Linked DNA regions of Homo sapiens. The protein of the gene in region 2 purifies or fractionates together with the protein of the main gene of each other region. This does not show direct contact. Each region holds a gene or a part of one and is shown on either strand. Other genes may lie near its edges.

Region 1 (3,500 bases), on a different chromosome or scaffold from region 2:
CCCAGCTAATTTTTGTATTTTTAACAGAGACAGGGTTTCACCATCTTGATCAGGCTGGTCTTGAACTCCTGACCTCGTGATCCACCAGCCTCGGCCTAATGACATTCTTTTCATGGTCCATTTTAGGTCCACCTTCATCCGAAGAGGCTGAATCATAAATATAACCCAGTGTCACTTCCCAAAGACTTACCCGACTGGGACTGGAGACACGGCTGCATCCCTTGCCAGAATATGGAGTTATTTGCTGTTCTCTGCATAGAAACAAGCCACTATGTTGCTTTTGTGAAGTATGGGAAGGACGATTCTGCCTGGCTCTTCTTTGACAGCATGGCCGATCGGGATGGTACTGAAAACGCCTTTCTTCTGCATGTGGCACAGGGTTCTGGTTTGTAGTGGGACAGTTTGTAGTGGGATCGCCTGTTCTGAGTGATATTTTCTGAGAAAATCCTTTCAGGATTATTCTGGTGACAACAGTCTTATATCTTGGATTGCATTAACAACCTTGCTAGCTGAACTAAGGAATAATATGCTGTGTTTTTTTTTTTCCTTTTTTGAGATGGAGTCTCACTCTGTCACCCAGGCTGGAGTGCAGCAGCGTGATCTTGGCTCATTGCAACCTCCACCTCTCAGGTTCAAGCAATCCTCCCACCTCAGCCTCCTGAGTAGCTGGGACTACACGCATATGCCACCATGCCTGGCTAATTTTTGTATTTTTAGTAGAGATGGGCTTCTGCCATGTTGCCCAAGCTGGTCTCAAATTCCTGGCCTCAAGTGATTAACCCTCCTTTTCCTCTCGATGTGCTGGGATTACAAGAGGAGCCAGTGCACCCAGCCTCATATTGTGATATTTTGACATGCATATGCTCTTTTTTTAAAAAAAAGAATCCTAAAATTCTTATTTCAGCCCTGAGGGATCTTATTTCCAGCTTCGCTGTCTTCTTTCAGGCCCCTCTCATTTTTGTAGGAGCCACGGTAGCTGTTTATTGAGCACCATTAAGTCATTCTACCTAAATCCTGGCAAGATGGGGATTATTCCTGTTTTTCTGTTATTAAAGCTGAGGTTTAAGGGGCTTGAGGTATTGTAGTTTGTGTTTAACTCAGTCTTTCTGATCTCAGTGCATATGTTTTTTTGTACTAAACCATGTTATCTTCCAATTGCCAAAAGCTGAGAGCAGAAGTAAACATCCTTTTCAGAAAAGTAAAGCCTCTTCTGCATGTAGTATCTTTCTCCCTGAAGTGGGGAATAGGCTGCAGTTGCCAGGCCACTTTCTAGGATGCTTAATCATTATTTAACTAATGCTTAATGAATGCCAGGCAGGATAGTGGGTTGTAGGTAAGAAATGTTTGTTAAAGCAGCCCTGCCTCTACCTATAAGGAGTTTGCAGGTTAAGACCAGGCCTGGGCAAGGTTGTGAGGTGTGACTCTCATGTTCCTCCATTCTTATACCCTATTTTTCCTTTAGCTGCTCTCTCAGATCCAGCCCCCACGGCCTTCTGGTGTGGCCCTCCAGTAGCCTAAGACATTCCCTGTGGCAGCCTCTTGAACAGAGGCCCAGGCCCTAGATCAAGAGTTCTCCACCTTTTCTCAGTTCTCTGATGCTTGAGGGATACATCCCAGCCCCATCTGTAGATGTGCCCCCAACCCAGTTAACATTTGCACTAAACAGCGTAACACAACAGCATAGGTTTGGAAAAGCCACTGAGGTAACCCAGAGGAGCCTTTCCTGGAATCTCTGAAATCACACCCCAGAGCACCTTCATCAGGGCCTGGTGATGTGTCAAACAAACTGTATTAGAGTTGCGTAAGGATGTGTTTAAAGTGTAGGGAGCTATAATAGCGTTCATTTGACTAGATCTATTCCAAATTGGACAGTCTTATGGTGAAGTGTGCTGGGTGGCTTGTGTCTGGGAGGAAATGAAATGTGAGGAACAGAGTGTCGTCTACATATGTATTGATAATATGATTCAGAGAGAAGTCTGGAAAGTAGGTTGGGGGCTTACCTCAGAATTCGTGTCCTTTTACCAGGTTTATTCACTGTTGGCCCCAGAATCCTTTCAGAAACCAAGAAATGAGAATATGTCAAGGGTTAAAGGAGGCTTTCACTTCCAGAAATCAGAAGTAAAATAAAGGCTTTTAGAGCCTGAAATTAGCTTTTTGGAAATGATAGGATTATAAAATCACTGGCAAAAGGGTTTAGAACTTGACTGCCCTATAAAGAGTTCTTCCTCTGTGCCATAGGTGGTCAGAATGGCTTCAACATTCCTCAAGTCACCCCATGCCCAGAAGTAGGAGAGTACTTGAAGATGTCTCTGGAAGACCTGCATTCCTTGGACTCCAGGAGAATCCAAGGCTGTGCACGAAGACTGCTTTGTGATGCATATATGTGCATGTACCAGAGTCCAACAATGAGTTTGTACAAATAACTGGGGTCATCGGGAAAGGCAAAGAAACTGAAGGCAGAGTCCTAACGTTGCATCTTATTCGAGCTGGCAGTTCTGTTCACGTCCATTGCCGGCAATGGATGTCTTTGTGGTGATGATCCTTCAGAAAAGGATGCCTCTGTTTAAAAACAAATTGCTTTTGTGTCCCTGAAGTATTTAATAAGAAGCATTTTGCACTCTAGAAAGTATGTTTGTGTTGGTTTTTTAAGAAGTCTAAATGAAGTTATTAATACCTGAAGCTTTAAGTTAAGTGCATTGATCATATGATATTTTTGGAAGCATACAATTTTAATTGTGGAAGTTTAAAGCCTCTTTTAGTCCATTGAGAATGTAAATAAATGTGTCTTCTTTATGGACCAAGGATATGAAATCATTTTTCTTTTGTAGCTAACGGTTGCCTTGAGGAAGAAATAATTTGGTTTTATTAAGAGTCTACTCTCAATCCAGTTATTAGAGATGTACTGAGTTTGATTTGTTAATCCTTTCTATATACTGCTGATCTTGCATGTCTACAATCTGCTCAGTTTTTCTGTGTTTCTGCAATAGTGGTCAGAAAAATACTTAAATTCCCTTAATGGTGTTGTTTTCTATTTGTTCTGGTTTTGAGATAAATGAGTGATTCTGTCCCCAAATGTCCATTTTTGAAGTGATTTTCCTGGAGGATTAGGGTATTTAGCAGTTGAAGCTCTTCATTCATAGTAGTTACTGTCAGCTAACAGGTTTTTTAAGGCTTTTAACTATTAATATTTTATGGAATGGGGCAAAGTAAATTGATGAAAGAATTGGAGTGATAATAGTCCTTTACAAACATACAGTCCATAAGAAAATGAATTTGGCATATAGAATTATTACAATTTCCTGGGAGAGATGGATATTTAAACCTCTATTATTTTAGACAAGACTGTCTAGAACTTAAGTTTGATCTGTCAGCCAGTACTCCCATTAAATTCAGTGTAGTTTCACTTGATAGAATCAGATATGTTATCGAAATGTTAGCAGCAGCTTCATCCTCCTTCTGATTAAAGTAAGTAGAAATGGGATGTTTTGTTTAATAACAGC
Region 2 (5,688 bases):
GCCACATGTCTCCTGTCATGGCTGGCTTTTTTGTGGGGGAACATTGGTGGTTCTTTAGAGCTGCCTCCCCGCAACTGTTATACCACCCTCAGGGACCTTACAAGGACCTTTCCCTGATGCTCTGTCCAGCTGGCCTCGGCAGCCGTCACCTCCTCCTGCCCTGAGCCTTCTCCACTGGCAGATAGCCTGCCCACTTCTGTAGGGTCCTGCATGGGGCATTTGGCTGCCTTCTGAGCTGTCCTGCTGGTCCCCCACGAAATCCAGCATCCTCGTCCTGCCAGAGTTGCCCTGCTGCCTGTTCTTCCCCCGCAGCCTTTCTAGCAGCTGCAGCCAGGTGAGGGGCAAGCCCTCTACAAGCTCCTGGAACTCCCTGTGCTCTGGTCCAGAAACAGTATGGGGTGGGCTCGTGAGCTTGAGCAGCTCTGCAGTGCTTCACTGGGCCGTGCAATGCCATTTTTCTTTCTTGTAAGTGCTCCATTCTTCAGGAGGGGTCCTCTCCTATACCCTCATGGAAGGGAAGGGGAGATGCTGCAGAGCTCTCCTCTCATTTATTTATTCATTCATTTATTTATTTATTGAGATGGAGTTTTGCTCTTGTCGCCCAGGCTGGAGTGCAATGGTGTGATCTCGGCTCACTGCAACCTTCACCTCCCGGGTTCAAGCGATTTTCCTGCCTCAGTCTCCTGAGTAGCTGGGATTACATGCACACGCCACCATGCCCAGCTAATTTTTTGTATTTTTAATAGAGACAGGGTTTCGCCATGTTGGCCGGGCTGGTCTCAAACTCCTGACCTCAGGTGATCCACCTGCCTCGGCCTCCCAAAATGCTAGGATTACAGGCATGAGCCAACACACCTGGCCTCTCTTTTAACTTCCATCGGAAACCTCTCCTCCCAAGCTTGCTTTGAAATGGGCTGTGACATTTGGTCACTGCGTAGCAAGTCCTGTGAGAATGAGCCGAGTGCCTGACTTTAGAAAGTGAGTACTTTCTAAAGTGTGTGTCACCTATTGTCCTAGTTTTAAGTAAACAGGAAGAGTCTCATCCTGTGTTCTTCATAAGGTTCATAGTGCAGGGCCTGGCACATAGTAAACACCCAGCGAGTATTGGCCACTATCATTATTTACCTTCTTTGGGCTGTAGTTTTCTCATCTGGAAAGTGGAGTTTATGGTGGGTTCTGCTCTGCTTGCCGCTTAGGGCTGTTAATTTGCATGAAAGTATCATAAGTCCATTTCATTTTTATACATTAGCCACAGCAGAACGGGATCTCTCCGCGCATGTTTAAGGCCTTTGTAAGCAAGAGCCACCCGGAATTCTCCTCTAACAGGCAGCAAGATGCCCAGGAATTCTTCTTGCACCTGGTGAATCTAGTAGAGGTGAGTAGTCAGTCTTCACGGATGCTCAGCGGGGTTGTAAGAGGGTGCCGAGCCACTCAGTGCAGTCTGCTGTGGCTTGATCAGAATGCCTCCCCACTCTCTTTCTTCAATCTCTCCTGTTAAAGCTGGTTCAGAATCAGATCCCTGGAAACTCTCTGCTCAGCCAACTTGATGTGACTGCTCTTCACACTCCAGTTTCCAGACACTTGTGGATCTCTGTGCTTCTTTTAACCTGTATGTGTTATAGGAGTGCTTGCCAGTTATTCCATTCACAATTTATTTTTTTCTGGTCTTTGTGACAAAGTTCCTTAAGAGCCCTGCGTGGTATTTGGTGTCCTCCTGCCACTGCTCAAAGATGATGAGTCTGCTTACATCAGAATCGAATGCCATTAAAAACTTTTTTTTTTTTTTTGAGACTGAGTCTAGCTCTGTTGCCCAGGCTAGAGTGCAGTGGCACAATCTTGGCTCACTGCAACCTCTGCCTCCTGGGTTCAAGCAATTCTACTGCCTCAGCCTCCTGAGTAGCTGGGATTATAGGAGCCTGCCACCACGCCCGGCTAATTTTTGTATTTTTAGTAGAGATGGGGTTTCACCATGTTGGTCAGGCTGGTTTTGAACTCCTGACCTTGTGATCCACCCGCCTCGGCCTCCCAAAGTGCTGGGATTACAGGTGTGAGCTGGAAAGCCACTGAGAATTCCTGAGTAAAGCCTTTTTTTTTTTTCCTGGTTACAACAGTGTTCTTTGTGGAAAATATAGAAAACACAAAGGAGAACATCAAAATCCCCCTTAATGCCACGCCCTGCAGCCAGCCAGTGTTTTTTGTTTGTTTGTTTGTTTGTTTGTTTTTGTTTGTTTGTTTTTGACAGAGTCTTGCTCTTGTCGCCCAGGCTGGAGTGCAGTGGCACGATCTTGGCCCACTGCAACCTCCGCCTTGCAGGTTCAAGTGATTCTTCTGTTGTTTGTTTCCTTGTTAGAACTAGGCTGCAGTGGTTTCTCTTGTCTGCCTCAGGGTTACTGATTCACATGTCTGCTCAGGTCCATGATCTTTTCTAACTCTGTTTATCATTTATTAGTGATAACTTTTTTTTTTTAGAATAAAGCCTCCCGAGTAGCTGGGATTATAGGCACCCACTACCATGCCTGGCTAATTTTTTTGTATTTTTAGTAGAGACGGGGTTTCACCATGTTGGCCAGGCTGGTCTCGAACTCCTGACCTCAGATGATCCACCCGCCTCCGCCTCCCAAAGTGCTGGGATTACAGGCATGAGCCACTGTGCCCGGCCAACAGCCAGTGTTCACAGGTTGGCATCTGCCCCTCCCATCACTTTCCAGGTCTTATGTTAATTCTCTACATGCTCTTCTGTAAGCAGTGTTTTCACTTAAATGTTTGCCACATCATCACATCTGTTAACAGAGCATAATTTCTGTTTTATTTGTACCTAATTTACATGAGTGTATTTATATAATCATATTGTACATGTTTTTATGTTTCCAGGGCAGCCCTTTATTTTTTTCCCTTTCTCTTTTGATTGGCTTCTCCTCCTCCTTTCTTCTCATTCCATGAATTTCTCTCCCATGGTTTTTAATTTAATAATATTGAAATAGTAATCCATGATGAACTATATTTTATTTTACCAATCCCCATTTTTGGACTTTAGATAAATTCCAGTGTTTTTCTATTAAAGTGCTTTGGTGAATGGGCATGGCCAGAGGAAATGTTTAATAAAGCCAAGTGTTTACACCGGGTTTAGAGTTCATTTTCTACTAAGTCTTAGTGGCTCAATATTCATACATTTACTAACCTGATACAATCCATCCTTCAGAGGAACCGCATCGGCTCAGAAAACCCAAGCGATGTTTTTCGTTTTTTGGTGGAAGAACGCATTCAGTGCTGTCAGACCCGGAAAGTCCGCTACACGGAGAGGGTGGATTACCTGATGCAGTTACCTGTGGCCATGGAGGCGGCAACCAACAAGGGTAACAATTCCAAAGCGGGAAATTGGTACTGTGTGTCTTCATATGGGAAAACCCTCAAATCAGAGAGAATGGTTTAGTCACTGAAGTGTGTCAGGAGTAGACCCAGCCCAGGTGATGTCTGCTTTGCACATCTCTTTTCATCTCTTTGTTAGTTCCCATGTGACTTTTCCTTTGAGAAGAATCAAATGCATCACAGGTTTTATGGAGGCGTTATGGTTGGAACCTACGTCACTGCCTATAAATTTGGCCAACTACTGAATATGGAGTCAGCATAATTTTGGGGAAAATTATTGGTAATGATGTATGTAGAAAATTCTTTAACACTGTCATTTATAAGTTGTGCTATAAAGTCTGAGGGAAATGATCAGGACTGCATTTTTTAAAGTTAGACATTCGAGCAGAGGTCTCTTGAAATAATCCAGCTTTGGCACATGAGTATTTGAGCCACCTCTTCTGGGAGATAAATTGTGTCAGGGTTCTTTGTAGAAGCAAAGCCCATTAGAAGGGTCTCTGGGCTTTGGAAGAGAGAAGGAGGCAGAGATGTGGCACTCATGTTTGGTGCCTTCTCCTTCCATCAGTCTAAGCTGGTTCTTCCTAGGCAGAATAGACAAATGGCATTTCTTCGAATTAACATCGTAGAAGCAAAAAAGACAAAATAGCTGCTGGATTGTGCATCTCCTGTGAACTAGTCATTTTTGTAAAGTTCAGCAATTCCACTATGCAGCCATGAAAAGGAATGAGATCATGTCCTTTGCACATGGATGAAGCTGGAAGCCCTCATCCTCAGCAAACTAACACAGGAACAGAAACCAAACACCGCATATTCTCACTCATAAGTGCGAGTTGAACATTGAGAACATATGGACACAGGGAGGGGAACATCACACACTGAGGCCTGTTGGTGGGTGGGGGGAAAGGGGAGAGAACTTAGAGGACAGGTCAGTAGGTGCAGCAAACCGCCACGGCACACATATACTTATGTAACAGACCTGCACGTTCTACACATGTATCCTGGAGTTTTTTTGTTTTTTGTTTTTTTTTTTGAGAATAAAGAAAAAAAAATTCAGCGGTTCCCTGGATGGCCCTTTTTGCTCTTTCTTGTGTGTGGGGGGTGGTGGGTCAGTTTATGATGTTAGTTGGAAAGTGATGATTATGATGATTTAAGATGAAACGATTTTCATTTTCTATATGCTCATGCAGTTTTTGATCAGTTTCAAAATCCTTTTGGTGTAGAAACAAGGGAATGGGAGTCTGCTGTTTGTTTCCTTGTTAGAACTAGGCTGCAGTGGTTTCTCTTGTCCGCCTCAGGGTTACTGACTCACGTGTCTGCTCATGTCCATGATCTTTTTTTAACTCTGTTTATCATTTATTAGTGATAACTACTTTTTTTTTTCAGAAAGGAGATTTATAATTTAGTCTCTGGAATTTGACTGTTGGGAACACCTAATGTTAGCAACCTAGATATAAGTACATCATAAACTGATTGGGGACAGGGGAATGAATTTTAAACCATCTAAGATGTGTTTAGGAAAACACATATGTGCGTAAGTGTACCTACAAACTGATAAATAAGGAGTTTTTTTTTTTTTTTTTTTGAGTAATACAAAAGAAATGACCAGAAAGGCCATTCAAATTGACATAAAATTTTGACTACAGGCTAGTTTCCAGGACCAGATCTGCTGGTGCTTGGGAGGTTCCTCTTTTTCCCTTAGTATTTAATCATTTGAGTAGGAATAGCACAGAGGCCTTCTGGGTTGGTAGCCCTGATGTCTGAGGTGTTGGGTAACCTCCACAGGAAGTTGTCTCGGCAGTGTTGGTTACTGTCATGGGTTGTTTGATGGTGGCTAACTGCAGTCCTGTAGTTATCCTCCTCCTTGGCCTCACAGGGACCCATGTGGGACCCATGACCTCTAATCATAGTTGCTGGTGGAACCAAATCAGAAAATGTGTAACACTCGATCTGGCTCTTGCCAGGCGCTTAGTGGTGGTTCTGTTTTTTTTTTTGTTTTGTTTTGTTTTTTTCTGCCTTTGGTTATTTTATTTTAAAACAGCTTAAAGTTAACAAGAATGTTTTTGTTACTTTTGTGTATGTGTGTGTGATCATTGGCAAAAATTGATCCCCTTACACAATGTAACATCTCTTTCTGGCCTTATCTGTTGGGTTGTGGAGGGAGTGCTGATCAGAGTTTTAAGTCCAGCTTTGCCAATAATTGGCTGGTTTTGACTTTGGGCCTCAGTTCTTCAGCAAGGCAGTGAAGGACTGGGAAGACGTGAGCCCTTGGACCTTTTCTGGCTGTGAAATACTCTGATGCGAAGGCCTTGTGTTGGGAGGATG

What was found. Proteins that work in one complex are often made in the same cells at the same time.
Region 1: the proteins of USP13 (region 2) and CYLD purify together in Homo sapiens (affinity purification with mass spectrometry; one large-scale study listed by BioGRID and IntAct). This does not show direct contact.

Annotation. Positions count from the first base shown.
Region 1 is NC_000016.10:50,794,086-50,797,585, forward strand, and holds part of CYLD (ubiquitin carboxyl-terminal hydrolase CYLD), read left to right. Parts: intron 1-126; coding exon 127-343; intron 344-2,238; coding exon 2,239-2,423; 3' UTR 2,424-3,500. UniProt on the Homo sapiens protein: Deubiquitinase that specifically cleaves 'Lys-63'- and linear 'Met-1'-linked polyubiquitin chains and is involved in NF-kappa-B activation and TNF-alpha-induced necroptosis.
Region 2 is NC_000003.12:179,738,998-179,744,685, forward strand, and holds part of USP13 (ubiquitin carboxyl-terminal hydrolase 13), read left to right. Parts: intron 1-1,249; coding exon 1,250-1,375; intron 1,376-3,199; coding exon 3,200-3,353; intron 3,354-5,688. UniProt on the Homo sapiens protein: Deubiquitinase that mediates deubiquitination of target proteins such as BECN1, MITF, SKP2 and USP10 and is involved in various processes such as autophagy, endoplasmic reticulum-associated degradation (ERAD), cell cycle progression or DNA damage response.